Linked DNA regions of Homo sapiens. The protein of the gene in region 7 interacts with the protein of the main gene of each other region in a biochemical or structural test. Each region holds a gene or a part of one and is shown on either strand. Other genes may lie near its edges.

Region 1 (4,994 bases), on a different chromosome or scaffold from region 7:
CACCTGAAGGCTTTGAAGCTGCATCTTTGGGGTCCCAGTTATAGGAGACTTCTTTGTCTAGGCCCCTCCCCAGGAACTTTCCAGGTAACATTGGCACATACTCACTGTTGTCATTCTGTCCCAAAGGTGAGCTCCGAAAAGGGTTTGGTAGAGAGAAGTAGGAGCTCCAACTTTTGGAGGAAGAGCCACCCTGAGGATTTCTGGGGTTTTTTGGAATTGCACCGGCTCCAGGAGCCATAAACATGTAGTCACTCTCACTGTCATTGTCCTTTGAGTCATCCTCTTTATTAGTATCAGGTGCTTTTGGAGGACTCGGAGCAGGTGGTGGGCTCACTCTGGGAAACATCATCATGTACCCTCTTGAATCTTCAAAAGGGGATCGAGAGTGGCGCTTTTTTGAAGCAGAGACATTTTGAGGAGCCATTGGCATATAATCACTGGAGCTTACAAGAGGGGTGGCCACCCCTGGCCTCATTGGCACGTATGGGTCATCCTCATCTTCATCAAAAGCTCTGGCTCTGTGGGGACCTCGAGCTGCACCTTCTGGGATCTCTGCATCTTTCACTTCTTTGGCTTCTTTGCATTCTTTCGTGGCTCCTCTGTCAACACAAAAATAAAGTCTGAATCTTCCCCCAGACTTCCCTTTTCCACCAGTTCCTCCAGCTGGTGGGGGTGGAGGAGGAGGTGGTGGAGGTGGTGGCATTTGCTGTTGCTTGCTTTGAGTTAATTTGCCAAAATAGGATCTTTTCTTCAGAGATTTTCCACGTTCACCATCACCATCGGATCCTTTCCCACTTCCTGAGCCTTTGCCCCCCCCAGAGTTCTTGCCACCACCTGAGCCATGGCCATCTCCAGGTCCCTGGCCACCACCTGAGCCATGCCCACCTCCAGGTCTCTGGCCACCACCTGAACCGTGCCCACCTGCGGTGCCCTGGCCATCTCTAGAGCACTGGTTTCCTCCTGAGCCCTGGCCATTTGAGCCCTGACCACCTCGGGATCCCTGTCCCTCGCCTGAACACTGGTTTCCTCCCGAGCTATGGCTACTGGAGCCTTGGCCATTTGAGCCCTGGCCACCTCCTGAGCCCCGGCCATTTCCTGAGCCCCAATTGTTCATAGGCATGTAGTCACCTCCGCTTCCTTCCTGATCTTCTTTGCCCTGGGGATTGCCTTCCTCCCCAAAGTTGCCAGAGCCAGAACCAGACACTTCAGAAGACAGGCGAGCTCCATTGTTCGGGGCTTCTGCAGGGTGCCGGGGACGTGCTGGGCTGGGTGCTAAGCGGCGAAAAAAGCTGGCCGGCACTGAAACCGCTCTCCTTGACCTGCGCCCTCTGGGCAGGTGCAGTCTTCCTCGCCTGGAGTGGGCCACAGGCTCGCTGGGTGTTACGAAGCGCCTGGTGAAAAGCATCTCGTCTTCCCCGTCGCCGATGGCCCTGAGGTGGCAAAACTGCTCAAAGCGGGACCTTCTGAGCCAGCCTCCCGGCTCGAGCGGCACCAAGCCCAGGTGCCTCCTAGCGGACAGCAGGGTTAACAGGTGGGCGCCGATGCTGATGCTGTAGCTGCGGCAGCGGGCTCTGTATTCGTCTGCACACAAGGCTCTCATCTTCTCCAAAAACAGCTCATGCATGTTTTGGGCAACCACACAGTCATCGACCTGCATCCAGAGCTCTCCCGGACCGATGACAGTGGACCTGCCTACTTCCAAGAAGAAATACTGCTCCGAGTGTCCACAGCGACGGATGCTCAGGAGCTGGACGACCACGCTGGCCACTTCGGTGTTCAGCCTCACAAACACGACCTCCTCGTCGGTTAGACACAGCCGGAACACGCCGCTCAGCTCTTTTCTGTGCCCCAGCCCCCTGGGTTTGACTATTACCTGCCACACATCTTTATAGAAGGGTGGCTCCGCCGCCGCTGCCGCCGCCAGCGCGGCCGGCTCTCCGTCCGGCTGCGCGCCGAGCGTGCCGCAGCGGCGGCGCTTGCTCTCGAGGATGAGGCGGCTGAGCAGCAAGTACCAGCTTTCCTGCTCCGACTCGTTCTCGGCCACCATCGCGAAGTATTCGTCTTGGGTGAAAAGAGCAATGAGGTGTCGGTACCTTGCATCTGCTCGCTGGCTCACGGAAAAGCACTGGTATAGGGTGATCACGCGCCGCGGTGGAATGAGCGGGGGGATCGCGGCGCCAGAGGCGGCCGCCGCTGCTGCAGCCGCCGCGGCGCGGACACTGTGCCGGAACTTCCTGGCATTTTCGTAGTATTCCAGCCGAGCTGGGGCGTCAGCAGTCTCGAGTTTGAGCACGAAGTAGCGCCTGTGCCCATGCTTCTGTTTCCGCAGGTAGCCGCGTTTGCAGACTTCCTCCCCGACGGGCAGGTCCTCCTCTTCGGACTCGGAGTCTGACCGGGAGCCAGTGGCCGTGGAGAGCCACATGGCTCCCGGACAAGACGACCCGGTCCCAATGAGTGCGGTCGGGGTTCCCGAGGAAAGAAGCGGGGTGGTCACCACTGCTGCTAGAGCTGCCGCTGCCGCCGCTGCTGCACCTCTTAGTCTTCTTGTCGCTTGGTCGCGAGTGAAGGAGCAACTCGCCATGGTGATGCACGATGGTTTTAAGGTGAGCGAGGAGGAGGGGGAATTCAGGAAAGGGAGGGTTGGGGGAAGAGGCTGTCTACCCTCGTCTGCCCGCCCCAGCCCCCTCCTGCCTTGGCCCGCGCCCCCGCCCACTCCACTCTGAGCGCACGACAGCGGGCAAAACAACACGTGACCACAGCCTCACGCGGCGGCCGCTGCGGATCCTGCTACCGGCGCAATGGAGGGGCGCGAGCGGCCACCAGTAGAGGTGAGCAAGGGAGGAGACGGCGGGCTCGGGAGGCGGAGCCACCTCCGGCTGTGCCAAATCCTCCCGGTCAATCTCCAGGCCTGTGGGCCAAGGGAGGACCGAGAGGAGGAGGCGGGCTCTCTGGCCAAGCTGATTCTAACAGGGAGTCCAGGAAGGCATGAGGGGGCGGGAGAAGGCCTGGAGGGGCGGAGGAGAAAGCGGCCGGCTATCAGGGTCGGGAGAGGGCGCCACAGTCGGGGCCCCATTGGTGGGAGGTGGTGGGAGGGGGCGTAGCGCAAGCAGTGCCTGCCTGCGGCGCCAGGGTGCAGAGCGGGCACAGTCGCGGGACAGTTTGTTTGTTTATTTGGGAAGCGGGAGCCAGGTGAAACTGTTGCAAGGCTCTGATTGGTTGGGATAGGAGCCAATGGGAGGGTCCGGCAAGAAGGCAGCCCCGAAATCATTAGTTTGGCGGGAGGGAGGGGTGAGAGGGGAGAGGGGAGAGGGGGCGTGGCTGGGGTCCCAAAGTGGCTTCGCTGTCGGCTTGTGGCGCTCTCAGGCGGTAAACAACCTTACGCAAATAGCTGTTAATGGTGGTGGTAAACTCGTGCAAATCCCAGAGCCGTGGTGACCCGGGATGGAGTCGGGTGCCCTGGTACTCCCTGTCAATCACATAAATTCTCTGTTCCTGTCACAGTCTGGTTCATTCTTTCCAGCCGCACAAGGCGGCGGATCGAGCTTCTTGGGAGAAAGTGTCGGCACCCCCTGAAAACGGGTTGACGACCAGGGCGCTCAGAACTGCTTCCCACCGCTCTGCAGGCACTCCCGAGCCCGCTGCACCCCTGACAGAAGCCCGCGACTCTGAGGCACACGAATAACAGCGATGCATTCAAAATGAACATGATCTTTATTAATCAGAATGCACTTCTAGCCCACGAAACACAGGTTCCCTAAATACAGTGTTTCTGCCTATTTGATTAACGATGACTATGAAAGCACAAATTTGGGGGCCTGCAATGTATACAGCCATATTGGAAAAAATTGGACTCGATTCTTACTGAAATAACCAGTGTTGGGCTGTGAAGGTATTTTTCTGTGGGAAATGCTTTGGAAGGTGCCTTTAAAAGAATCTCAAAATATTGCTTTCCTTTCCTTGAGCGAGACCGAAAAACTTTAGAAAAAGAAAAGCTCATACCTAGAACAAAGGACCACGCTGAATGCATATTCTAGAGCACATTTCACATCCCTCGCGTCAACAAGAAGAAGAAGAGGAGCTTTGATGCATTTCAGTCTACAAGTTGACATCACAAAAGTAAGAACTACTGCCTCCCTCATTTCTGGAAAAACTGCCGGAGTGTAAGTGCAACCTCCTCAAGTCTCTCTCTCTCTCTCCCTCTCCTTCTCCCTTTCCCTCTCCCTCTCCCTCTCTCCCCCACCACCCCAGTTATTACTTGACTAGGATTTTAGACTCTTAATGGTGGAGATGGGTCGTGAATTATCAAAGGAGTGACCAGGTTTGCAAAGAGGAATGGAGGGAGAGGAGGAGAGAAATACAGCATTTCTCTCTGAAAGAATGGAATGTCAGTTCACCCTTGCTCTAGGGTTGATATGGCAAAGGGTACTATTTATAAAATCCAACAGTAAACTAGGCAATATGTATATCATAAAAATAAACCATATTTCTGCCCTCTTAAGAATTTGCTCTGTTAGAAACAGAACACACGTATTTGAATAAATGGCTCCTTTTTGATGCTATAATTTAAGAGAAAAAGAAATTGGTTTGGGTTGTCCCCCAGATATTACAAATATTCAATAACATTCCCTCTGCTGCCAATGGTTTATAAGTGCAATATATTCACAGGTGCTGGAAGCAGCCGTGGTTTCGGAAGGGAGCTAGAGGCAGAACGAGTGTGGATGCTGAGAGATCCCTGACTGTGACTGCTACATATTTCAGCTGCGTAGTCACATATATACAAGATTCCCTGCACTTACAACCAAAATGATAACAAATGCTCTCATTTGGGATTTTGTTTGATAGTCATTAGGATATTTTATAAGTCTTTCCAAGCACAAGGTTTTTTTCTTTTTTTTTTTAAAGAGAAATGTGACAAATAAGGCAACATATTTGAAAGTGCTTTGAGTAATAACATGACATTGAAAATATCAAAATGAATATTAAATGAAATGGGA
Region 2 (3,200 bases), on a different chromosome or scaffold from region 7:
CAACTGTCTTAGGTACTGAAGAAGACCTGGAATTTTATGTCAGGAAGTGTGGTGATATTCTTGGAGTAACCAGTAAACTACCAAAGGACCAACAGGATGCCAAACATATCCTTGAGCACGTCTTCTTCCAAGTGGTGGAGTTCAAGAAATTGAACCAGGTACAGAGCCTACAAGGCACAGTGTAGTGGGAGCCCCTCCAGTACTGGTATCTTCCATGGACTGTGCTTGCCATGTTTTATGACGTTGATTCAGCCTGTAAATATTTATTAAGCATCTACTAGGTGAACAAAACAGACAATAAACCCTGTACTTATGGAACCTATATACTAGCTGGAGGATGTAGACAATAAGCAGTAAACATAAGTGAGTCACATAGGATGCTAGAAAATGGTAAGTGCTTTGGTATAAAAGAAGTGGAGGCTGGGCGCAGTGGCTCACGCCTGTAATCCCAACACTTTGGGAGGCTGAGGTAGGCAGATCACCCGAGGTCAGGAGTTCGAGACCAGCCTGACCAACATGGTGAAACCCCCTCTCCACTAAAAATACAAAAATTAGCCGGGCATCATGGTGCGTGCCTGTAATCCCAGCCACTCAGGAGGCTGAGGCAGATGAATCACTTGAACCCAGAAGGCAGAGGTTGTGGTGAGCTGAGATCGTGCCGTTGCACTCCAGCCTGGGCAACAGTGAGACTCTGTCTCAAAAAAAAACAAAAAAACAAAACAAAACAAAAAAAAAACAGCTGGGTGTGGTGGCTCACACCTGTAATCCCAGCACTTTGGGAGGCCGAGGCAGGTGGTTCAGCTGAGGTCAGGAGTTTGAGACCAGCCTGGCGAACATGGTGAAACTCCATCTCTACTAAAAATATAAAAATTAACCAGGTGTGGTGGTGCACGCCTGTAATCCCAGCTACTAGGGAGGCCGAGGCAGGGGAATCTCTTGAACCCAGGAGGCGGAGGTTGCAGTGAGCCAAGATGGCACCACTGTACTCCAGCCTGGGTAAGAGAGTGAGACTCTGTCTCAAAAAAAAAACAAAAAAATAGAGCTGGGTAAGAGGGATCAAGTGTGCTGAGTGTGGCCATGATGACTGGTGAGTATTAAATAGGGAGATCAGGGTGGGTTTCATTGCAAAGTTGTATTGGAGCAAAGATTTGAAGGTGTTGAGAGACTTAGCCATGCAGATATCTGGGGGAGGAGTGTCCCAGGCAGAGGGGAGATGTGTGCAAAGTTCCTAAGGCTGGGCTGTGCCTGGTATGCTTGACGAACGGCAGTGATGCCAGTGTGACAAGAGAACAGAGGAAAGGACAGAGCAGTAGAACATGAGGTGATCACCTTATGTAAGAAATGATTTTCTCAGGCCGGGCACCGTGGCCCACACCTGTAATCCCAGCAATTGGGAGCCCAAGGCGGGCAGATCACAAAGTCAAGAGATTGAGACCATCCTGGCCAACATGGTGAAACCCCATCTCTACTAAAAATACAAAAATTAGCTGGGCGTGGTGGTGCATGCCTGTAGTCCCAGCTCCCATACTCGGGAGGCTGAGACAGGAGAATTGCTTGAACCTGGGAGGCGGAGGTTACAGTAAGCCAAGACCACACCACTGCAGTCCATCCAGCCTGGCGACAGAGCAAGACTCTGTCTCAAAAAAAAAAGAAAAAGAAATCATCTTTCTCTGACTGAGGACCAAGAACTTCAAAATTATCCCTGGCCTTCTTTTTTCCAAGGATTTCAAAAATTGAATGCCCAACCAGCTTTGGTAAATAGGCATTCATACACTACTGATGGAGAATAAGTTGGTTCCACTTGTCTGGAGATATTTTTATAATACTGTTGAAAAGCCCTAAAATGTATATACCGTTGACCCATTCTAATCTTCAGAATTTGTTTTAATAATATAATTCGGAATACGTACAGATTTATCAACCAGGATTCTCAGTGCCACATTATTTTATAGAAGAAAAATCTTCATCAATAGGGAACTGGTTAAGTATCCTAGGGTACATCCATAAGATAAAAAATGTTTTTAAAAATGTTTGGCCAGGAATGGTGGCTCACGCCTGTAATCCCAGCACTTTGGGAGGCTGAGGCGGGTGGATCACGAGGTCAGGAGTTCAAGACTAGCCTGACCAACATGGTGAACCCTCCTCTCTACTAAAAATACAAAAATTAGCCAGGTGTGGTGGCGTGCACCTGTAGTCCCTGCTACTCAGGAGGCTGAGGCAGGAGAATTGCTTGAACCCGGGAGACAGAGGTTGGCAGTGAGCCAAGAACGTGCCATTGCACTCCAGCCTGGGAGACAGAGTGAGACTCTATCTCAAAAAAATAAATAAAAAATAAAAATAAAAATGTTTAAGGACTTGGGCCAGGCGCTGTGGCTCACATCTGTAATCCCAACACTTTGGGAGGCTGAGGTGGGCGGATCACTTGAGGTCAGGAATTCGAGACCAGCCTGGCCAACATGGTGAAACCCCATCTCTACTAAAAATAAAAAAATCAGCTGGGTGTGGTGGCCCGTGCCTGTAGTCCCAGTTACTCAGGAGGCTGAGGCAAGAGATTCGCTTGAACCTGGGAGGCGGAGGTTGCAGTGAGCCAAGATTGCACCACTGTACTCCAACCTGGGCAACAGAGTAAGACTCAAAAAAAAAAAAGTTTAAGGACTTGGGAATACATTCGTGATACAGTAAATATGTGGTGGGGAGAGACTAAAGAACAGTATATAGAGAGATTCTACTTTCTTTACAGAATACAATACACACATAGAATTATTTTGCATAATAAAAAAATAACATAAAGATATTTATCCTTGGGGCCCAGTGCGGTGGCTCACGCCTGTAATTAATCCCAGCACTTTGGGAGGCCAAGGCAGGTGGATCACGAGGTCAGGAGATCGAGACCATACTGGCTAACACAGTGAAACCCCGTCTCTACTAAAAATACAAAAAATTAGCCGGCCGTGTTGGCGGGTGCCCATAGTCCCAGCTACTCAGGAGGCTGAGGCAGGAGAATGGTGTGAACCCGGGAGGCAGAGCTTGCAGTGAGCTGAGATCATGCCACTGCACTCCAGCCTGGGTGACAGAGTAAGACTCTGTCCCCCCCAAAAAAAGAAGATATTTATCCTTGGGCTGGGCACAGTGGCTCACGCTTGCAATCCCAGCACTTTGGGGGGCCAAGGTAGGTGAATCATTTAAGCCCAGGAGTTCTA
Region 3 (4,269 bases), on a different chromosome or scaffold from region 7:
CTAAGATGGTGAAACCCCATCTCTACTAAAATAATACAAAAATTAGCCAGGCACGGTGGCGGGCGCGTGTAATACCAGCTACTTGGGAGGCTGAGGCAGGAGAATCACTTGAACCCGGGAGGCGGAGGTTGTAGTGAGCTGAGATCATGCCACTGCACTCTAGCCTGGGCGACAGAGCAAGACTCTGTCTCAAAAAAAAAATTGTAGATCTGGAGGGTCAGAGAGGGGTACAGAAGATTACAAGGACCTCTTCTGGCAAGAAATGTGCCGTAGACTGAGGAAACTGTTTCTCTGGAGGCCCTGCAGTCCCCCATCTCCCCTGTCCCCAGAGAGGAGCTTGAAAAGGTTCTGGAACCTTCACATTCCAGGGTCCTTGGATAAATCTTTGTGCTTTCTCTACTGGGAAACCCTGCCTAGGCCTTCCTGGATGATTATCCTCTCATCCCCAGGCAAATGGGCAAGTGGACTTTGGATGTAGGAGCATGTCCTGCTAGGGGCCCAAGGATGAAGCCTTCGTGGATGTTCGTGTATTCTAGTCCTTTTGGTACAGGGACAGAGTGGGTGCCAAGATACATCCCTGGGTTTGCCTGGCCTCGGCAGTCCTCCTGCCCCAGCTCAGTCTCCAGAGGCTCCAGGAGGACCAGGCCCGCAGCTTCCTGTGTCAGGGCAGAGTCTTTGTGCAGGGGTCAGCACCTTGTGCCTGCCGGTCCTCCTGCACTGTGAGCTGGGGATGGTATCAGACTAGGCTCACGTACTTAAAAGTGCTCCACAGCAATGGAGCCCTGAGCCAGGGGTAGAGGAGTTAACATGAGGCCTGTGAGGGTCCATTCCCTGATGTGCAACCTGCCTCCAGCCCACACACAGCGCCTGGTCCACATCCAGTCGATGCTGAAGCGCGCCCCCAGCTATCGCACGCTGGAGCTGGAGCTGCTGGAGTGGCAGGAGCGGGAGCTTTTTGAGTACTTTGTGGTGGTGTCCCTCAAGAAGAAGCCATCGCGAAACACCTACCTCCCCGAAGTCTCCTACCAGTTTCCCAAGGTGAGGCCTTCTCTCTCCCCACCTTGCCCATATTCCCCCTCTTCCATCCTCTATCCGCCAGGCCTATCTGGGGAAGGAGAGAGATCTTGTTCGTCATACGTCCTCACCGAGCTGCCACAGCCCTGAACCTGCCTCCTCTCAGCCAGGAGGGAAGACAGGGCTGCAGCGGGGGTGGGTTTGGGCCAGTGCTTGTTCAAAGGATGAGGACTAAGAAAGAACCTCTCAATGTGCTTATAATAAAATCCAGAACAATTGAATACCATACAGTTCACCCACTTAATGTATACAGTTCAGTGTTTGGGTGTATTCACAGAATTGTGCAATCATCACCACAGTCAATTTTAGAACATTTTTATCACCCCAAAGAGAAACTCTGCACCCACTAGCTGTCACTCCGCACTTCTCCCACCAGCCTGTCTCTCACTCCGCCTTCCCTGCTTGTCGCCAGCCAGCCTGGCCTCCCTCTTCTTCCTCTCACACTCAACCCCTCTCTCTCTGCCATTGCCTCTGCCAGGAATGTGCTTTCTCCAGCTCTTCACGTGGCTGCTGGCTCCTTCTCATTTCTCAGGCTCTGCTCAAGTAGGACCTCTTTCAGGAGGTCTGTCCAGACACCTGCATGGAGCCCCTCCCCTGCCCAGCTTGCTCTGGTACATAACCCTGCTTATTATTTTATTTTTTTATTCGAGACGGAGTTTCGCTCTTGTTACAGAGGCTGGAGTGCAATGGCGCTATCTCGGCTCACTGCAACCTCCGCCTCCTGGGTTCAAGCGATTCTCCTGCCTCAGCCTCCCAAGTAGCTGGGATTACAGGCATGCGCCACCACTCCTGGCTAATTTTGTATTTTTAGTAGCGATGGGGTTTCTCCATGTTGGTCAGGCTGGTCTCGAACTCCCAACCTCAGGTGATCCGCCAGTCTCGGCCTCCCAAAGCGCTGGGATTAACAGGCATGAACCACCGCGCCCGGCCACCCTGCTTATTTTTTTTTTAAGCCCCGCTCTGAGATGTTGTGGTTGACCATCTCACTCTGCTGACGAGAATGTGTAAGGTCGGGGACCTTGTCCCCTTTGTTTTCCATTGAGAGCCAAGAGCCCTGGCGCATAGCACCGTGTCAGATGCCATATAGAAAGCACTCCGCTGGCATTTATTGAATGAATGAATGATGACTCTGGGCTCTGTAAGAATTCGGAGTGGGACAAGGGTTGCTGAGATCATGCCCGCTAGTCAGTGGCATCTAGGGCCCTCAGGGGAGGAGGGGCTTCTCAGCCACCACCACCCGCCCTCAGGTTCCATGTCATCTCCTGGTTCCTTCTTCCCTGCAGCTGGACCGACCCACCAAGCAGATGCGAGAGGCAGAGGAAAGGCTCAAAGCCATTCCCCAGTTTTGCTTCCCTGATGCCAAGGACTGGCTTCCTGTGTCAGAGTATAGCAGGTGAGGCCTGGCCTGGCCTGAGGGAGGAAGGAGCATAGCCTTCTTTACCCCCATAGCGTGGGCACCTGAGTGGGGCCTGCTCTAGTCTCATCCTCTCCTACAGCAACCTGGCCCTTCACCCCACGTGAAAATGACGGTCCCTATTCTTGGGGGCTGTTTCCTAGGTCCTCTCACACCTCCCTGATGCCAGACCTCTCTTTGTTCCAGTGAGACCTTTTCTTTCATGCTGACTGGGGAAGATGGCAGCAGACGCTTTGGCTACTGCAGGCGCTTACTGGTGAGTGAGGCCATTCGGTCCTCAGGCCAGCAGGCAGGGGATAGGCCAGGGTGTGTGTGTGTGTGTGTGTGTGTGTGTGTGTGTGTGTGTGCCCTTCTGCAATTTTAGCTTGTATGAAATCCTATGTTATGCTTCCTGAGGCCACCCCGAACCCCCTGCCAACACACACACTTTCACAGGTGAGGCTACCCTGGGAGAGCAGGGCTCAGAGTGGTGCTTCTGAGGGGGCCTTAGGATCGGAGGTTATCTGGAGTAAGGGGAGGGAGTGGGTTTTCATGTCTTTTTAGTTTTTCTCTACTTTTTCGTCATTTCCCTTGGGATCATGGGCTCTGATTGCTGGTCTCTGGTTGCAGGATCGAATCGCCCCCAGCAGTATGTGTATATGCATCAGATTAGGTGAGGGACAACCTTCCTCACCCCCATACCTGGCCAGCCTGTAGTGGGGAGGAGGCCTTTCTGTGGTGTGGTGGGGCTGGAGATTGGGCAGGGACAGAGACATACCTTCTCTGGGAATCTGAGAGAGATACCTTGAATCTAGGGGAAAGGGATTAGGTTTTGAAAATGTTAGCCATTTTGTAAAGAGAAGTCCCTCACCATTTCCCTTCCCATTAGTCCTGGGAAATAGATTGGGTAGAGGCTCAGAGCCTGGCCCCTGCTGCACTCCCAGCTTGGAGCTACTGGGTTGTTGACAATGTTTTGGGGTTTCCAGGCCTTAGCAAGAGAAAGCCTCCCCAGATACCAGTCTAGGGGTAGATGAAGGGGGCAGGAGCCCTGAAGGAAGGATTTGGGGCCGGCCATTCATTCATTCAGAAACACTTATCATCCCTTATCAGAAGCCCTGACCTATTGAGAGTCAGGCACGTGCTATTGAGAGTCAGGCACGTGCTCATATAAAGATGAGTTTAACATGGATCTCCCTCTCGAGGAACTTTAGATGGCCTGTTACAGGAGATTGGACTTTCAACACAGGAGGGAAGGGCCAAGGGAATAAGAGGGAATAAATGTTGTTTAGAACCTGTCACATTCCAAGCTAGATGCTTCAAGTATGTCTTTTAAAAGAAAATGATCACAATAGCCCATGGGTTATTATTATCCCTGATCCATAGATTGGAAAGTCAAAACTCAGAGGTAGAATGACTTGCCCAAGGTCATACAGAACCAGAAGGGAAGTCGTTTGTCACCAATTTGTACTCTTGGATCACCCCCAGAGGATGGACTGGGGAGAGGGGGCGTGGGGAGGTAGAATGCCCATGGAGGGGCAAAGGGCGTATGCACAGGAGTGATGCCAGGTGGTGAGCCAGGCAGAGGCCAGCATGCCTCTGGCCGCCTGGGCCTCCCAGGCTTGGAAGGAGTGTTGCGAAGGCTGCCTTTGCTGGAACATAGATGGAGCAGAGCTGCTCCTTTGTAGTGGGGCTGCTGCCCCCAGGGAAGAGCGTGTTTGTCCTGGCGTGCTCAGAGAGGGCCTGGGCTGGGTCTCTGCCAAGGGGGCTGGCACTAGCTCGGCATTCCTGCAGATTGGACACAA
Region 4 (4,269 bases), on a different chromosome or scaffold from region 7:
CCCTGATCCGAAGCCTCACTCCCACCAGTAATCTTCTAAGCCAGCAACAGCAGCAGCAGCAGCAGCAGCAGCAAGCAAATGTGATCTTTAAGCCCATAAGCAGCAACTCATCCAAAACCCTGAGCATGATCATGCAGCAGGGGATGGCAAGCTCCAGCCCAGGAGCCACGGAGCCATTTACTTTTGGCAACACCAAGCCCTTGTCCCATTTTGTTTCTGAGCCGGGTCCCCAGAAGATGCCCTCCATGCCTACCACCTCTAGGCAGCCTTCCCTGCTCCACTACCTGCAGCAGCCGACACCAACGCAGGCCTCCTCAGCCACTGCCTCCTCCACGGCCACTGCCACCTTGCAGCTGCAGCAGCAGCAGCAGCAACAGCAGCAGCAGCCTGACCATTCTTCATTCCTTCTGCAGCAGATGATGCAGCAACCCCAGCGTTTTCAGCGATCAGTGGCCTCAGATTCCATGCCTGCTCTGCCCAGACAGGTAAGACAATCTCATATCTGGCTGTGTTCTTTTGTTTTGGAAGTAACAACTGTGTTTCATGTTGCCAATATCTGGCTCTGGAGGGTAAATCCAGGCTATAGTTCTCTCTGAGACTGGAAAAGACTCTGAAAAAGTCTACTGAAGTCAGCTAATCCTGTGTGGTTAAAAGCACAGTGTTAATAAGGCCAAGGTTATGGTTTCAGTGCCTGTTCAAGTCACCTAACTTCCCTAGAAGGAGAGCTGCACCCACAAGGTGCTCCCGGTGGAAGGAGCCAGGTGGGACAAGTCCGAATACAGAAATGCCTTCCCTGCACTGGGCCATGTAGAAAGACTAGTGAATCCTTCTTAAGATGTAAGGAAATTGCACTGAAGCATTTAATCTTATCCCTGCTGGCAGAAGGACAAACACTGAGCCTTCTAGAAATGCCACAGCAAACTTTTGCTGAGCAACCTCAGCATGCCATTTGTCACTGTGCTGGATACTCAGTCAGGTCGTGAAAGGAAAAAGACAGGTATTTGCAAGGTAGTCACTCTCATCATCTCCATTTTACAAATGAAGAAACTGAGGCTCAGAGAGTTGAAAGACTTGCCCAGAGTCACATAGTTCGCAAGGGACAGAGCAGGAACTTGAAGCCAGGTGGTCTCACTCCAGAGCCTGTGCTCTTCTTGAAATTACTTTTGACTTCTCACCCTCCCTCATCTCCTCCAGGCTTTTCAATCATGAAATGCAGCTGATTCCACCTGGGTCGTGTCTATCACAGTTCCCAGTTTTCATTTCTGTGACCCCTGCCTGTATTAGTTATCTGTGGCTGCATAACAAATTACCCCAAGCACCAGCTTCGAACCATATGCATACGTTACCACCACATCCTGATTTCTGGGTGTTAGGAATCCTGGCATGGTTTAACTGAGTCTTCTGGCTGAGTATCTCCTAAGGCTGCAGTCATCTCAAGGCTCAGTGGGGAAGGATCTGCTTCCAAGCCCACTCATGTGGTTGCTGGCAGGAAGCAGTTCCTTGCAGGTTGTTGGACTGAGGCCTCGGTTTCTCATGAGCTATTGGCCAGAGGCCTCCCTCAGTTCCTTGCCACACGGTCTCTTCACAGAGCATCTCACAACATGGCAGCTGGCTTCATCTGAGTGAGCATGAGAGAGTGTGCCAGTGAAGCAGGGTAATGGGGAGAGAGGGAGGAGGGATAGTGCCAGCAAGTCAGAAGTCACAGTCTCTATGACCTGGTCTAGAAAGTAACATCCCACCACTTTTGCTGTATTCTATTCATGAGATGTAAGCCAGAGGAGATTGCATGAGGGTGTAAATACCAGGAGGCAGGGTTCAGTGGGGCCAGGTCACACATGTGCCTACACAGAATACTCAGTCACCATCTACCATCCCTCCTTCCCATTCCTCTCATCCTTGCCCAAGTTCAGGTCCTCTTGATTCTTTATCTGAACTCATACAGTTGACCCTTAACTGGTCTCTCCCAATAAACCATCCATTGCTCTGAGTCGTCTTGCTAAAACAGTGACCTGATCATGTTTTACACTTGCTCAGAAGTCCCCAGAGGCCCATAAGCTGGCCCCACCAGCCTCCTGGGCCCTTCAGCATCCATCAGGCCCTGCCTTGCACTTTGTTTCTATTACCCAGAAGTGCCTGCAGCACTTGGCCCACGCCATCTGGTCTCAGCCTTTACTCTGGCCGTTCCCTGGGCCTGGTCATCCCTTCCCACATTTTCTCTCCTGTCCAACACCTGCAGCTACTTAGGGCTCAGGCACCATCCCTCCAGGAAGCTTTTCCATGACTGTCCTCAGTACTTCCATTTCCCACTGTGCCTCCCTCTTCTGGAGAGTGGTCAAGGAGGAGATTATAAAGTGCTTGGCCAGAGACCTGGCCCAAGGGAAGCACCTGTCAAGGGCTGACCTCTTATTTAAGAGCTCTGTATGAGCACACCTGTGGCAACCCCTAGAGTACAGAGGTTGTGTCTTTTCCATCCAGGTTTCCTGGAGCATAACCATGCAGAGTGCTTGACACCAGGGAGTTGGTCGTTTGATAGACCATGCGGCAAGCAGAGCTCCCATGGGGGTGGCCGGGGGAGCGGTGTGGAGATAGGCAAAGCACATAGGACACGGCAGGCCACCTGGGGCTCGGGCCCTGGTCTGCAGTTCAGGAGCACTTTGGTTTGATTTTATTATAGGGCTGTTGCCATCTGTTTGCATGGACTTCTGCAGCTAGCTCGGTGAAGCCCCAGCATCAACACGGGAACTCTTTCACTAGCAGGCAAGATCCTCAGCCTGGAGACGTGTCACCGTCTAACATTGTGAGCCTTTCTGTTTTGTTTTGTCTTCAATTGGGTACATTTTTGTAGACTGATTGTGTTGTCCCAGAGCTGGATCAGCTGGCTCAGAGGGAGAATTCTTAATTATTGGGGTCATGCAAATCATACCCAACCAATTACCTAGGTGGGGTTGGAGAAAGTGTTCAGGAGAAAGACCGAACAGTCAAGCTCCCTGGGGCTAGGAGCACAATAAAGGGGGCAAGCGACTTTTGCCAGCAGAGGCAAGAAGCTGGGTCCCCAAATTGGAAATGCTATTGCCACCAAGAGCTGCCTTTCCAGCCCATGCTGGCCTGTGCCCAGGGGCCAGGCATGGGACCTGGTGCTTCACCTGCCTCTTCTCATTTTAATCCTCAGAGGCAGGGGCTGTTACCATTCTCCTGAGAGTTGGGGGGAAAGGCACAGAGAAGTGACCGAAGTTGCCCACAGTCACACAGCAAGCTGGGGCCAGAGCAGACAATCTGGCTACAGAGCCCACACTCATACTCCCATGCATGGGGCACTGCCTCTGTAGCCTTCTGTTTCCACTGTCACCTCTTAACTGTTTCCTCCTCTACAAATCAAGGTGATGATAGGTTGTCTGAGGACTAAGTGTGTTAATACATCTAAAGCACTTTGAACAGGGCCTGGCATAAAGTATGTGCTGACAAGGGATTTGCTGTCACGATGACTCTACCTCCTGACCCTGTGCTCCCAGATCTGTTTCATGGGACTAAGATGTGGTTCTAAAAACCAGTAGCTGTGGCAGGACAGACACAAGCCACGCTATCTCCAGACCCTGTACCCACCATGAGATTGATAGGAGTTGTGCAGCCTCTGAGCCTTGTGGGCTCCTTTTGCTCTAGGCCCTGCCTCTCCTGGACAACTCCCAGCCTGATGGGAAAGGGGAAAGGGGAAAGGTCCATCCCTGCTTTGCAGACTGGGGATCTCACTTTGCTCTTTCTTGAGCTCTCCGGCACTCTCACTCCGCTCCTCTCCCTAGCACTCTGTTCTCTACCTGGTATTCTTCCAGGCCTCCAAGCTGGGGGAATCTCAACAGTCCTTCTGTTTCTTCTTATGGCCTCTCCCTATTAACTCTAAGACCTAAGAACTCAGCCCTGGTCATTCTTCCAGGGGAGAGAAAAAAATAAAGAAAAAAGCGAGTGTTTGAGGCAAGAGCTGGGACCGCTGTAGAAGGACAGATGGTGGCCCCAATGGTGGGGAAGAACATATTTCCCACTTCCAGCAGGCTAAGCAAACCTCCCAAGTTTTACTGATGGCCAAGCTGAGCCTCAGGAACACTAATTACCTATGATATGGCATTTACTAGCCTGTTACATTTGCCGTGGACGATAATGGTTACCATGGAAAAACTGGACATTCATTTGAATCTGGATCTTTGAGGTTTTGTGCGGGGGGTGGGGGCTTTTTTGGTTTTTGTCTGTTCATTTCTTTAGAGGCAGGGTCTCACTATATTG
Region 5 (4,269 bases), on a different chromosome or scaffold from region 7:
GCGAGCGGACCACAAGGTCAGGAGTTTGAAAGCAGCCTGGCCAATATGGTGAGACCCCGTCTCTACTAAAAAATACAAAAATTAGCTGGGCATGGTGGCGGGAGCCTGTAATCCCAGCTACTCGGGAGACTGAGGCAGAAGAATCACTTGAACTGGGGAGGCAGAAGTTTGCAGTGAGCCAAGATCACACCATTGCACTCCAGCCTGGGTGACAGACAGAGACACCATCTCGAAAAAAAAAAAAAAACCTGCTGAATCCTTAGCCCAAGTCTATTAGCTCCAAAGTCTCTGTCATAACCCACCTGCCTTGTACAAGAAGAAACAAGTGAATTTCTGTGTGCAGAGGGATTCTCTGCATTGAAAAGCGAAGGGAGAAAAAAGGAAAAGACTGAGAGACTTCACTATATAAAAATTTACAGTCCCTGAATGTCAAAAAAAAATCATAAAACTTAAAGGAAAATCACAATGAAAATATTTGCAACAAGTGTGATATAAACTTGTGCAAGTAGATAACAGAAAAACTATAGCTTCGATAGAAAAATGGCAAAGAGAATTGAACAGACCATTCACGAAAGAGGGATTATGAGGGTCAATAACTCTATCAAATAAGCTCAACGTGACCACAATCAAATGCAAATCAAAATGAACATTCACCACCTTCACCTTGCAATGTATTGTGTTTTGAAATGAAAATATTCAGAATAGGAAGGTTAGAATGAGGCGGGCACTCTCTTGTACAGCTTACTGGTGCATATATGGAAAAAAATTTCTGGAAAGCAATGTATCATTCTGTATCAAGAGCCTTAAAAACATTCCTGTCCCTCGATCTAGTAATTCCACTCCTCGGAATCTATAACCAGACATGTTTATAACATTTCTGCAAAAGACCTTCATCAGTCATATTTATAACAACAAAATGCTGTTGATAACTTAAATATCTGATAATAGAAGAATCATTTCATGAAGTGTCGCACATCATGTAATAGAATCCTGTACATCCATTAAATATGATCATTAGGAAGAAAACCTAACTAAATGGGAAAATGCTAATGCTGCTAGAAATCTCAGACTAAAATTAAAATATGATATTTAGGAAGAAATTCTAACTAAATGGGAAAATGCTAATGCTGCTAGAAATCTCAGACTAAAATTATACATATACATGTAATACATGTATATACAAAATGGAAATTACATACATACAGGGAGGTAGAGAGAAGAAGAAGATACACCAGTGAATTAACAATGGTTATTCTAGTGTCTCAGTGATGGGGTGGTTACTTTTCTGCTTTTTGCTTTGTACTTTCTGTGCTTTGTATAAATACCATTTTTTAAAGTGACTCTAAAGAACAGGACATTGCTGTTTATCAGATCTATTTGTTTCTCCATTGCCACTGACAGCTGTGTGGTCCAGCAAGCCTCTCTGCTCCGGGGAGGTCCCAAATGATCTCTCGGGGACAGCCCTCCGTGGGGTTGTTTACAGTAAGTATTGAACCCAAACTGTTAGGGGCCTGCACTTGTTAATATCGTGTTTTCCTAATGAAAGGGGACAACAGGAGCCTGAAGTGAGCAGGGGAGAGAATCTGGTCCCCACGTGCTGCCGCACCTGTCAAGCCTGAGTACCCCCGTCATGGAACATGCTGTGCTCCTTCCATCGTCCTCAGCCCCAGGACTTCAGTACCCTCTGCACCCACCCCCTCAATTGGAGCCCAGTGGTCTTCAGATGCCTGCCTTTCTTCCTGATGTCATGTTCATTGCCCCTGGTTTCACTCTGTGTGCCTCTGTGCCCCCATCCCTTCCTCCTGCTGGCTTCCAGGCTCCCAGCCCTGTCCCCAGCAGCCTCCGTCACAGGGGCATCACTCAGTCCTCTTCCTGCTTCCATCTCTCTGAGTGCTTCCTCCAAGGAGGCCTCAAGTGACAACTCAGCATCCCCCAGAGGCCTCCAGGAAGTTTCCTAAGCAATCCTCTGCCCCCATTCTCTTCTCTCCTCTGTATGGAATGTTCTTCACAGATGGGTCCTGTACTCCTCTGCTTCTGAGATGTCACTAGTCACTTTTAGCTCATAAAGACTAATTGCCAGCACGATTTTTTTTTTTAGACGGATTCTAGCTCTGTCGCCCAGGCTGGAGTGCAATGGCACGATCTCGGCTCACTGCAACCTCCACCTCCTGGGTTCAAGCAATTCTCCTGCCTCAGCCTCCCAAGTAGCTGGGATTACAGGCACCCGCCACCATGCCCAGCTAAATTTTTCGTATTTTTAGTAGAGACAGGGTTTCACTGTGTTGGCCAGGCTGGTCTCAAACTCCTGACCTCATGATCCTCTTGCCTCAGCCTCCCAAAGTACTGGGATTACAGGTGTGAGCCACCACACCTGATCACCAGCATGATTTTTTTTTTTTTTTTTGAGACAGAGTTTCACTCTTGTTGCCCAGGCTGGAGTGCAAGGGTGCCATCTCGGCTCACCACAACCTCTGCCTCCCAAGTTCAAGCAATTCTGCTGCCTCAGCCTCTCGAGTAGCTGGGATTACAGGCATATGCCACCATCGCAGGCTAATTTTGTATTTTTAGTAAAGATGGGGTTTCTCCATGTTGGTCATGCTGGTCTTGAACTCCCGACCTCAGGTGATCCACCCACCTCGGCCTCCCAAAGTGCTGGGATTACAGGCATGAGCCACCTTGCCCAGCACCAGCATGATTTTTATGTGTGCAAAGCATTCGGTGGGTGCTTACCACATGCCTGGACTTGGGCTGTAAATGTCACTCACATCTTTCCATTTTGTCCTCTTGATAACCCAAGGAAACAAGGAAAAGACAAACAACCCTGTTTTCTAAATGTACAAAGGATCTGAATTGACTTTTCTCCAAATACAAATGGCCATTAACCATGAGAAAAGACGTTTGGCATCATTAGCCATTAGAGAAATGCAAATTAAAACCACAATAAGACATCACTTCACACCCACTAGGATGGCTATAATAAAAAAGATAATAACAAGTGCTGGTAGGGAAGTGGAGACATTGGAACCCTCAGATGTTGCTAGTAGGAATGCAAAATGGTGGATCCACCAAGGAAAACAGTTTAGCTGTTCCTCAAAGTGTTAGACTTAAATGACCCAGCAATTCTGCTCCTAGATATAGACCCAAGAATATTGAAAATATATGTTTGCACAAAACCTTGTATATGAATGTTCATCACAGCATTATTCATTATAGCCCAAAAGTGGAAACAACCCAAATGCCTGTCAACTGATGAATGGATAAACAAAATGTGGTTCTTTCAATACAGTGGCTCATTAGTCAGCCCTGGAGAGGAGTGATTCATGCCACAACACAGATGAAGCTTGACAGCATTGTGCTCAGTGAAAGAAGCTGGCCCCAAAGTCCACATGTTGTATGTTTCCAGTTATGAAACATCCGGAAAAGATAAATCCATAGACAAAAAGTCATTTAGTTGCTGCCAGGGTTTGGGTGGAGAGGGAATAGGGAGTGACTGCTGTGGGTACAGGGTTTCTTTTCTTTTCGAGGTATTGAGAATGTCCTGGAATCAGACAGTGGTGTTGGTTTCACAACATTGTGAATGCACTAAAAGCACGATAAAGAATTGTATACCAGGGCCAGGTGCAGTGGCTCACGCCTGTAATCCCAGCACTTTGGGAGGCCTAGGCGGGCAGATCACCTGAGGTCAGGAGTTCGGGACCAGCCTAGCCAACATGGTGAAACCTCGTCTCTACTAAAAATACAAAAATTAGCTGGGTGTGATGGGAGGCACCTGTAATCCCAGCTATTTGGGAAGCTGAGGCAGAGGATTGCTTGAATTCAGGAAGCGGAGGTTACAGTGAGCCAAGAACACACCATTGCATTCCAGCCTGGGCAACAGGGGTGAGATGAGACTCTGTCTCAAAAAGAAAAAAAAAAATTAGCCGGGCATGGTGGCATGCGCCTGTAATCCCAGCTACTCAGGAGCCTGAGGCAGGAGAATCACTTCAACCCGGGAGACAGAGGTTGCAGTGCGCCGAGATCATGCCACTGCACTCCAGCCTGGGCAACAGAGCAAGACTGTCTTGGAAAAAAAGAAAATTAAGAATTGTACACCATAGAAAGGGTGACTGTATGGAATATGAATTATACCTCAATTTGAAAAAATAACCCAACGAGTGGGCTTTGGCCTTGTCATCCTCATTCCACCTGTGAAGATGCTGGGTTGACACAGGAAGGTTAGCATTTTGCAAATGCAGCCCAGCAGAGCCAGCAGACCACAGAGCCTTGCTC
Region 6 (4,269 bases), on a different chromosome or scaffold from region 7:
CCTTTAATATAAATGCATAGAAATTCTATTGAAAGTTACATATATATGTATAATATGCATCAGCATCCTGAATACTTACAACACCTTTCAACTAAATAGAAAAACAATTGAAAAATAAATATATGGTGATTTCAAAAGGGAAACCGAGGCTATAGAACCATAAAAACTGAGGATTTGAGTAAACAGTGGAAGCTGGAACCATCCAGATGAATGAATGACTTTTTCCATTGTTCATCCAAATGCAAGCATCTGCTGAAAGGTTAGAGGAAATCGACATGACAAAGAAGATACCAATATTATGAATTCTACAAGTTCCGTGATAATTGTCCCAATTTTTTTAAGTTTTAGTCAGATTTTAGTATCACACAGATATAGTCCAAGTAACAAAAAATACACCAAAGAATAAAATACACGTAATTCAACACTCAACAACTGGATACTGATATTCTCAGTATTCCCTAAACTGTAAAAATGTGGATATTAATTTTCCTAAACTTTTGAATAACTGCTTCATTCTATCATTAATAGTTCTACCTTGAACATATATATTTTGAAATTTTATTAACTTTAAAACAGAAAAATACCTTCTGACCTTTACATATATTTATCTTTCCATTCTTTGTTTCATTATCAAAGATCTTCTCTCAGTCGTAATACAGAAATTTGCTTACAGCTACAAATTGACAGAAAAGTAATATTAGTTTCTCAGGACTTTAGCCGGTATTGCAAAAGACTTGACATGGATTGCAATTCAGCTCATCATAGAGATTGTGATTCCAAAATTTAATTTCATAACTCATAATCAGCCACAAAAACATTACAACAGAATATGAGAAACATTAAAAGGCAATTTCCTCATTGTTGACTACTTATTAATTTACAACTTAGTCGAATAAAATTAAAACAACCAGTATGCTTTCTGGTGACTGGTAAAATGACTGTTTTACAAATTTCAAATAAATGTATTCAAATGCATTTGGTCTCTGTAATAAAAGTGGGACATAGATATTGTAATAAGACTTTTTTTATTTGAAAAGGAAAAATAACCAATTCTACTGGAAAATTCAAGCATCATTTATATTATGTTTTCCTATCATCACTAACTAGGCTTCTTCAAAGTCTACAAAATCATAATTTGAAAGAACATATTTTTTCAATGTAATAGCTATTATGAAACTATTTTACAGCTGTGAATGTTCTATTAGAACAAAAAATGCTCCATAGAATACATACATACCAATAGGAATGCACAAATCAAACTTCTCTTTCTGTGATTATTTTTTAAAAATTGCTTGAGTAGGGACAAAGAGGGTTGTAGGAAGATTTTCAGGAAAATGACAGAGATGGCACTGATTTTTCGTTCAGCTTAATCATTTATTTCTAGCAAATTCAATTCCCCAGCCTTTTACAGCAGTTACTTTCAGGGACCAACAGGCTGGCATGAAATTAAATTAACAAGCAGATTCCCATTCTGAATTAGTGACTCCCAGCTGTCTGTCCCATCTAGTTTCCATGGCAGTAGCACAATCAGTGGAAAATGAGGTACAGGAAATTTTAAGAAGCCACTGTATCAAGCCCCTTAAGTCAATTTCTTTAAGCTGATGAATCAGTACAGTGGGCAGGGGTGGGGGCAGGGAAGGGGGAGTAGGGTGTAGAATTGAATTTAAAGTTTTTAATTTCCTGCCTTGCTGAAAAGGTCAGTGTGTTTCTGTTTCTGTAATTGTTGTAGAATGCAAGCAACATCTCCTTATACATTTTATAGAAGGCTGTAGATTCACGATGGCATTTAGTTCATTGGGCATTTTATAGTAACCCAAGAGTGTTTAAGATATTTTACATGTATTTTAAAGTGTTTTATTTTATTTTTTCTTTCTCTTTTGACATGGATATTAAGGGTCATCGGCCTGTTAAGTGACTCCAAAACACCCAGAAACTAGGTAAACAATTTTCTCAAACAACCAGATGTTTTTCACCCCAAACAGTTGGATGGTTAACAGAATGGTGCAGTCACATATTTGGGTGTCACCTAGATTCAGTCATAGAAATTTGTCATAAGCACCCAGAGAAAAAGTATTAACCTTGGCACATATCTACCATAAACAGAAATATAAAGGCTCCCAGGTAAGAACTTCATAGGGGATTATCCACCCATGTGAAAAGAGATTTTTAACATGTTTTTATGTGTCCATTTTCCAATTAGCTTCTCCACTCTTACAGTTAGAATAGAGCGGGGGTGGAGAATCCAATATTTCAGAATCATTACATCACATTAAAAACATCATCCAAGAGGTAGTGGTTAGTTGGCATATATGCATGTTTCACCATATGCTATTGTTTACCTAAAGTGGAGGCTCGGACAGGAAGTACAATTTAGAATAATTTTTTAAGTTGTAAATTATCCAAGATTATACTTCCAGGCCTTGAAATGGGTCCTGAAGTTACATAAAAATCTAATAGACTTCATTTATTAGACTCTAAGTTACTATTTTAAAATATTAGGGATCCATGTCACCTGTAAAAATATTTACTTTTCAAATTTAAATTAGCTTAATTTCTATACAGAAATGTTAGCATTGCAATTGATATAAATATTGTTATATAATAATTTTCAGTCTATGCCATCATATTCCAATTTCCTCAGCCCTATTTTTCATGGGTTCCAAATGTAAGCAATTTTGCTGGTCTTGCTAAATTGTACCACAGCACGTCTAGCAAACTACAAAATCTCTATACATTATATAAATTGCCATAACAGAGCACCGAATACTGAACAGACACCTATGGTTGGTCATCAAGGTTGTTAAGAATAATTAAAAGCTGTGTGAAGCCTTTTATAGCATTCACCTGCTCAAACTAAGCATGGTTCTAGCTGGTTATATTTGATATTTACTTTCCTCTGTTCTAAAAAAAATCAATGGAAAACAGAAAGGAATAAAAATAATATATTAAGCCAGGATTCAGAATATTTTTACCTTTTAGGGGAAGGAAAAATAATAGCAATCTCCATTCAAAGTAGTGATTTAATCTAACACTCAGAAGCTGTAGAAGATTTAAAGAAATTGTGGTATATGTGAGCATTTCTGAAATTTGATTCCTTTTAATTTTTATAATCAGCAGTTACACTTCCAGTCGTGGGTATATGCTGTTGGTCACAATTGCTAAATTCTGTACCTTACAATATTTTTCATCTGCCTGTAGTCATACTAGGAATCCAGTTTAAACCTTTCTTCTAAATGTTAAGTGATGGGAAGCTTTTTAAGTACGCATGGATTATTAATTTTGTGGTTAAAATCCACAGCAATTTAACAAATATATATAATTTTAATAAAGCTATTGTACATGTTTTATATCTGATTCAAGGCATTCACAAGCAATTGCTTCCGTGTGTGTGTGTGTGTGTGTGTGTGAGAGAGAGAGAGAGAGAGAGAGAACAAATATGAGTACTATAAGAAAATTTGTTTTCATCAAAAAAATTAATCACTGACTCAGTTATTCAAAGTACTGGTCTTCTTTTGACCTCTGGTCATTTATAAGTAAGTAAATAAATAAATGCATAAATAATAATAATTAACTTGTTTTGGGAAACTTTAGGGAATTTATTAACCATAATCTATACCAACTACTTGATAGCTTTACTTAAATCTGAAACTGAATGACTTAGGAAAAGCAAGCTTCAAGCAAAAATTATATGGACTCCAAATGTCTATCTCTAACATAGAATATGAAAAATGTTTGTTTTATTAATTAACACTAAAATTTCTTACTACTTCCAAGTTTTTAAGGCTGTCACAGAAAATAAATTTCCACTAAGTTTTCTGTTTTCAGAAACAACATATCAGGAATGTTTTGCAGTTTGACAATTTAAAGTAATATTGTATAGAATAAACTTGAATGCTAGACTGTTCTGCTTCAGCAAGAATCTTTCTGGTAAAGGTATCAGAAAGGATCAATGACTATGAGGGAAACTATGATTATGTCGGTGTTATTTACACATATAATAGCTGAATTGAAACACTGAGAATTCTAGGGTATTCAGACTGAATTAGGCCTTTGAATGTGATGATAGTTATGTATAATACAATTTTATTTTAATACACCTAAACGTTTGAATATTTGAAATCTTAATCACCTTTACAGCACAATGATTCTACAAAGCATTCTTTCCTTTAGCCTCACTGTATATTTTGTCAAATGACATGACTGTCCCTAATTCATAATTGGAACCTAAACCTAATGGAAAATACTACTTCATGTATGCAAAAATATTTG
Region 7 (4,924 bases):
CTGAGACCAGCCTAAGCAACATGGCAAAACCCTGTCTCTACAAAATATCAAAAGTTAGCCAGGCAAGGTGGCTCGTACCTGTACTCCCAGCTACTTGGGAGGCTGAGGTGGGAGGATTGCTTGAGCCTGGGAGGTCGAGGCTGCAGTGAGCCATGATGGTGCCACTGCACTTCAACCTGGGCAACAGAGCAAGATCCTGTCACACACACACAGAAGCATAAACTATAATATAGATAGATGAATATTAATCTTGGGGTGGATGAAGACTTCTAAACATAAAAAAGGAATGAACAGATTTGACAATCTACAAATGTACAACTTACATGTCAGAAATTATATGGAAAATTAAAAGGCAAACAGGAAACTAGAAAAACATTCTTAAATTGAGGAACTATTGCTATACTACAAAAATAAATGTTTACTAAATGAAGTGTTTTAGAAATCAGAGAAAAAGCTAATAATTTTGTAATTAACTTATTGAAAATAAATGCTTTTGAATGACCATTCAAAATTTAGTATTAGACAATTTTATTTTCATTATCCTATATAATAATTATAAAACACAGAGATAAGGCTCATTTTTTTTCTTTTTTAGAAAATTAAGCCCCTTAATTTATAATAAAACTGGTCATTCTATTTTATATTCTTCACATAGATTGTGAATAGCTACACTCAAATTACTTAGGTTTCTGCATTAACTGTATTTGCTGGTATAATTTTAAGAAGAAGAAAATACTTGTAAAAATAATGTCACTCACTTGACATAGAAAATTGACCACAGGCCGGGCGCGGTGGCTCACGCCTGTAATCCCAGCACTTTGGGAGGCCGAAGCGGACGGATCACGAGGTCAGGAGATCGAGACCATCCTGGCTAACATGGTGAAACCCCGTCTCTACTAAAAAATACAAAAAATTAGCCGGGCGTGGTAGCAGGCGCCTGTAGTCCCAGCTACTCGGGTGGCCGAGGCAGGAGAATGGCGTGACCCCGGGAGGCGGAGCTTGCAGTGAGCCAAGATCGCGCCACTGCACTCCAGCCTGGGCGACAGAGCGAGACTCCGTCTCAAAAAAAAAACAAAACAAAACAAAAAAAAAAGAAAATTGACCACAAAGAATGAGTTCAATAATGTTCTGAATTTAATAAAGGATTGATTAAATTCTGCTCAGTAGTTACAAGTAACTGAACATTTTTTTCTCAATGGAAGAATAAATTCAGAATATATCAGTTTTTAAAAAACGAATGAGAATATGAATAGCAACTAAAACGATTAATAGGTGCATTCAATGAGAACTTTTTATTTCAATTATCCACAAAACAATATTACAATACTTTATAAAAATATTAAGTTTAGGCTACCATTATTCATTTAAAAAAGTGTGCTAGAAGGCTGTTTTTGCCAACTTCCTTTTTTGGTAAGGGTTAACTTCCACATTAAGACACTGAAGACGAAAAGCTGTTGGAAAATATCTCCAAATTTACAAAGTTGTTTTTCTTGGCAATTTAAAAATACAGAACAATTTAAAATGAATACACATTAAGTTAGTGTTTTATCCCTACTATACAATTGTTATTATATAAGGAACTGCTCCATTCAGTTAAAACCTAATGAATACCATCAACTTTTCCTGCCTTACTTTCCTGATTAGATTTAGTACATAAACGTAATTTTGTCACCCTTTTGAATATGCTTAGAAAAATTACAATATCATAGTTCACATAAAGCCCTTAAAAAATCTCATGTCACAAGTTGTTGATAAGAGGAAATAATGACAGCACTCTTCTTAGGAAGACCCTCTTGGTAGAGAGTGTCAATACTAAGCAGGTTACGTAAACAGAAAAAACAACCACAATTTTTAGTACCAGAACCACTGCCAACTTGCATGAAGTCCATCTTCACATTTTAAAAATGGTTTGAATTTGAACATATATGCCATGGCACAGAATTTCGAATCTGATGATTAAAATCAGGTAAATAATGATAGTTAAGAATTATATCCTGAAAATAGAGGGGCCTAATATAAGGCTTAATTTAAAGTGTGACTATATGAGAGTATTTTAAAACATATACACCAGACCTTCATTTTATTCATCAATTTTTCCTTTGCTAGACACTCAAACCACTAATGCTGCTATTCAAATCTGTATTTTGAAATTACTGAGTTACTCTTAAAAATTAGTCTTATTTTGTATGTTTCACTTTTGCACTTTAGGGTAAAAACTGTCCCCTTTTCACCACCGTTAATATTCAGAATAAGTTTTCCTCCCCAAATCAACCATTTAATGTATTCTAAAAGGGAAAAAATGACCACCATTACATAGACTTTAGAAGTGAATGTAGGCTGGGCGCGGTGGCTCACGCCTGTAATCCCAGCACTTTGGGAGGCCGAGGCGGGCAGATCACAAGGTCAGGAGATCGAGACTATCCTGGCTAACACGGTGAAACTGCGTCTCTACTAAAAATACAAAAAACTAGCCAGGCGTGGTGGTGGGCACCTGTAGTCCCAGCTACTCGGGAGGCTGAGGCAGGAGAATGGTGTGAACCTGGGAGGCAGAGCTTGCAGTGAGCCGAGATCGCGCCACTGCACTCCAGCCTGGGCGACAGAGCGAGACTCCGTCTCAAAAAAGAAAACAAAAAAAAGTGAATGTAGATTCAAACATGATTTGAAAACTGGAGTTCTAAAAATGTTTTACATAAAAACCATATCCCACTGCAATGAATGTGAAGCCATAACTTCATTATTTTGAACAAATACCCATTTAGTGTGTAAGAAAAATTAGTTTTATAGTTATACTTTATAACTCTTCAAAGTCTCAGAATATAGCTAAGTGAGGAGCTCTGAGTGCCAGCAAAGCCATTCTGTCACTCCATGACATCAACATTAAACATTACCTTCCATCCCTCTAACTTGTAAAACTTTCACTTTCTTTTCTCGTATTTCTTTTAAATACATTTTCCTCTCTGTTCATCTATATTCACCATGAGCAAAAGTGCATTCAAGTCCCTGATCTGGTCATATTTTCTATTTGTGGCACCCATCCCCATAAGGACATATAAGCAATACTCACAGTACGAAGTCTAGTTTTTAAAAAGGGCTTTTAAAATGCTGGGTCTTACTTTGCATGCTATCTAAAGATCAAAACATTTCCCCTTTGATTGGACAGTAGTTTCAATTATATATTGCCTTAAAAAATCAATGCAACCTCATACAAGATTAACTCACTTTCTAGTTACCTTCATTATTCTAAGTCAAACTCTTCAGAAAAGGACTGAAGTGAAAAAGTTCTTATTCTTTCAGTTCCATGAACATGAATATTAATGTACTGCATTATACTTTCAAATTCCACTTCTGTGGTCTAACATTTAATCAAGTTTGAGATCCTGTTTATATTCCTTTTGAAAAACCTGGCCCATGTCCATGCAAAAGAAAGCATATATTAAGATTGCATACTGACTGTTTAACTTAGAAAAAACTTTTGAGAATAATAAATGCAAGAAACTTTAAAAAACTGGAATGGAATTATTTGGTCCCATGATATTCCTTAATTTTAGATTTTATTATGGTATAGCTTTTTATCTCTCAAGTTTTATCTGTAACAATAAATAATTTTCTTTGAGCAATTCTGACTTTGGGGAAAAAAAGAAAGGAAATGATTTATAAATAAGCAGGAGCCTCACTGTCCTTCATTACCATGCTGTCACCCACACTGTCATCAGTATCTTAGCTCTATTTTGTTTGGACCCTGAAATACGCTGATAAATTCATCATTGGTACATTAGAGTTTAATACTTGGGGAAAAAAAAGTGGTTTTGTGCAACCATATCTGGGATTCCAGTTTACCATTAAAAACATGCAGAGTAAAGAAGATTTTCTTCTTTTGATTCCTGTAGAAAATCTACACAAGTTCTTTATATTTTGGCAGATTTGTGCATATAAAATAGGCTACTTGAATTATAAATTTTCTCCTGGCTGGTACTGTGGCTCTGTAGCAGTGAAGTAGTCTTCCAAGAAGGACTGAATATATTCAAATGTTGGTCTTTCATCAGGGTCCTTCTTCCAACACAGATTCATCAATTCATGGAGGGATTCTGGACAGCCCTGAGGGCACGGCATCCTGTATCCTCGCTCCACTTGTTCTAATACTTCACGGTTCACCATACCTAATACACAAGATTAAAACATTAAAGAACAATGGTCCTAACTACCACTAGGAAAACATAACAAACCCCCTAGCCACTAACTCATTCAAAGTATATTATTTAGTGAAACAATTCTTTTAACAAAGCAACAAAATAAATTTTAAACATGAGAATATCAAGAAGAGCTTAGAAAATGCTAATCTATGTTTTAACATGTCTAATTTTTCATTCCATCTTATATCTTATTTTTAATACTAATGTCTTCAAAAGCCAACCCCATTTGATTAATAAGAATTTAGGGTGCTACTATGAGGTACTGGTACTTTCTAATATTAACATTTAACAATGACCAAACTTGGGTTACTGAGGAATGGTGGCAAGATCCTGTCTGAAAGAACTTTAAAACAGGAATTCAGAAGAAAGTTCTAGTCTTGGTTTTGCCAAATATACCAACTACATAACTTTATATTGAATTACTTCTGTGAAAGTTTCCTTATCTAATATTACCTGTTTGACTTTCTTCAAGATATTACACATAGTTCCTTTCTTGTATTCCTTTGTAATCCCCCCTTCCTCAACCCCCTGATCAGCAGTTCACCCCATCTTATCACAGGACAGCAAAATGCCTCCTTTTCCAAATTCTTCCTGATAGTGTCTCACTAAGCCAGCAACCTCACCTCACGTCCTATCTCCCGCATCACCTTCCTTCCCTGCCTGCAAGTCAGGCCATCCCTTGTATCTCTTGGAAACTTTATCAACCAATCAGGAATGATATTTAAAATAGTCTA

What was found.
Region 1: the proteins of YES1 (region 7) and IRS4 interact in a surface display test, tested with the Homo sapiens proteins (one large-scale study listed by IntAct).
Region 2: the proteins of YES1 (region 7) and IFT52 interact in a surface display test, tested with the Homo sapiens proteins (one large-scale study listed by IntAct).
Region 3: the proteins of YES1 (region 7) and DENND2B interact in a surface display test, tested with the Homo sapiens proteins (one large-scale study listed by IntAct).
Region 4: the proteins of YES1 (region 7) and MAMLD1 interact in a surface display test, tested with the Homo sapiens proteins (one large-scale study listed by IntAct).
Region 5: the proteins of YES1 (region 7) and INPP5D interact in a surface display test, tested with the Homo sapiens proteins (one large-scale study listed by IntAct).
Region 6: the proteins of YES1 (region 7) and TENM1 interact in a surface display test, tested with the Homo sapiens proteins (one large-scale study listed by IntAct).

What each region holds. Positions count from the first base shown.
Region 1 is NC_000023.11:108,733,764-108,738,757, forward strand, and holds the start of IRS4 (insulin receptor substrate 4), read right to left. Parts: upstream 2,801-4,994; 5' UTR 2,582-2,800; coding exon 1-2,581. UniProt on the Homo sapiens protein: Acts as an interface between multiple growth factor receptors possessing tyrosine kinase activity, such as insulin receptor, IGF1R and FGFR1, and a complex network of intracellular signaling molecules containing SH2 domains.
Region 2 is NC_000020.11:43,642,467-43,645,666, forward strand, and holds part of IFT52 (intraflagellar transport protein 52 homolog), read left to right. Parts: intron 1-12; coding exon 13-158; intron 159-3,200. UniProt on the Homo sapiens protein: Involved in ciliogenesis as part of a complex involved in intraflagellar transport (IFT), the bi-directional movement of particles required for the assembly, maintenance and functioning of primary cilia. Required for the anterograde transport of IFT88.
Region 3 is NC_000011.10:8,709,320-8,713,588, reverse strand, and holds part of DENND2B (DENN domain-containing protein 2B), read left to right. Parts: intron 1-853; coding exon 854-1,038; intron 1,039-2,357; coding exon 2,358-2,467; intron 2,468-2,631; exon of another isoform or gene 2,632-2,674; coding exon 2,675-2,744; intron 2,745-4,269.
Region 4 is NC_000023.11:150,471,006-150,475,274, forward strand, and holds part of MAMLD1 (mastermind-like domain-containing protein 1), read left to right. Parts: coding exon 1-485; intron 486-2,674; coding exon 2,675-2,797; intron 2,798-4,269. UniProt on the Homo sapiens protein: Transactivates the HES3 promoter independently of NOTCH proteins. HES3 is a non-canonical NOTCH target gene which lacks binding sites for RBPJ.
Region 5 is NC_000002.12:233,066,421-233,070,689, reverse strand, and holds part of INPP5D (phosphatidylinositol 3,4,5-trisphosphate 5-phosphatase 1), read right to left. Parts: intron 1-4,269. UniProt on the Homo sapiens protein: Phosphatidylinositol (PtdIns) phosphatase that specifically hydrolyzes the 5-phosphate of phosphatidylinositol-3,4,5-trisphosphate (PtdIns(3,4,5)P3) to produce PtdIns(3,4)P2, thereby negatively regulating the PI3K (phosphoinositide 3-kinase) pathways.
Region 6 is NC_000023.11:125,197,249-125,201,517, forward strand, and holds part of TENM1 (teneurin-1 isoform 1 precursor), read right to left. Parts: intron 1-4,269. UniProt on the Homo sapiens protein: Involved in neural development, regulating the establishment of proper connectivity within the nervous system. May function as a cellular signal transducer.
Region 7 is NC_000018.10:720,476-725,399, forward strand, and holds the end of YES1 (tyrosine-protein kinase Yes), read right to left. Parts: intron 4,158-4,924; coding exon 3,949-4,157; 3' UTR 1,113-3,948; downstream 1-1,112. UniProt on the Homo sapiens protein: Non-receptor protein tyrosine kinase that is involved in the regulation of cell growth and survival, apoptosis, cell-cell adhesion, cytoskeleton remodeling, and differentiation.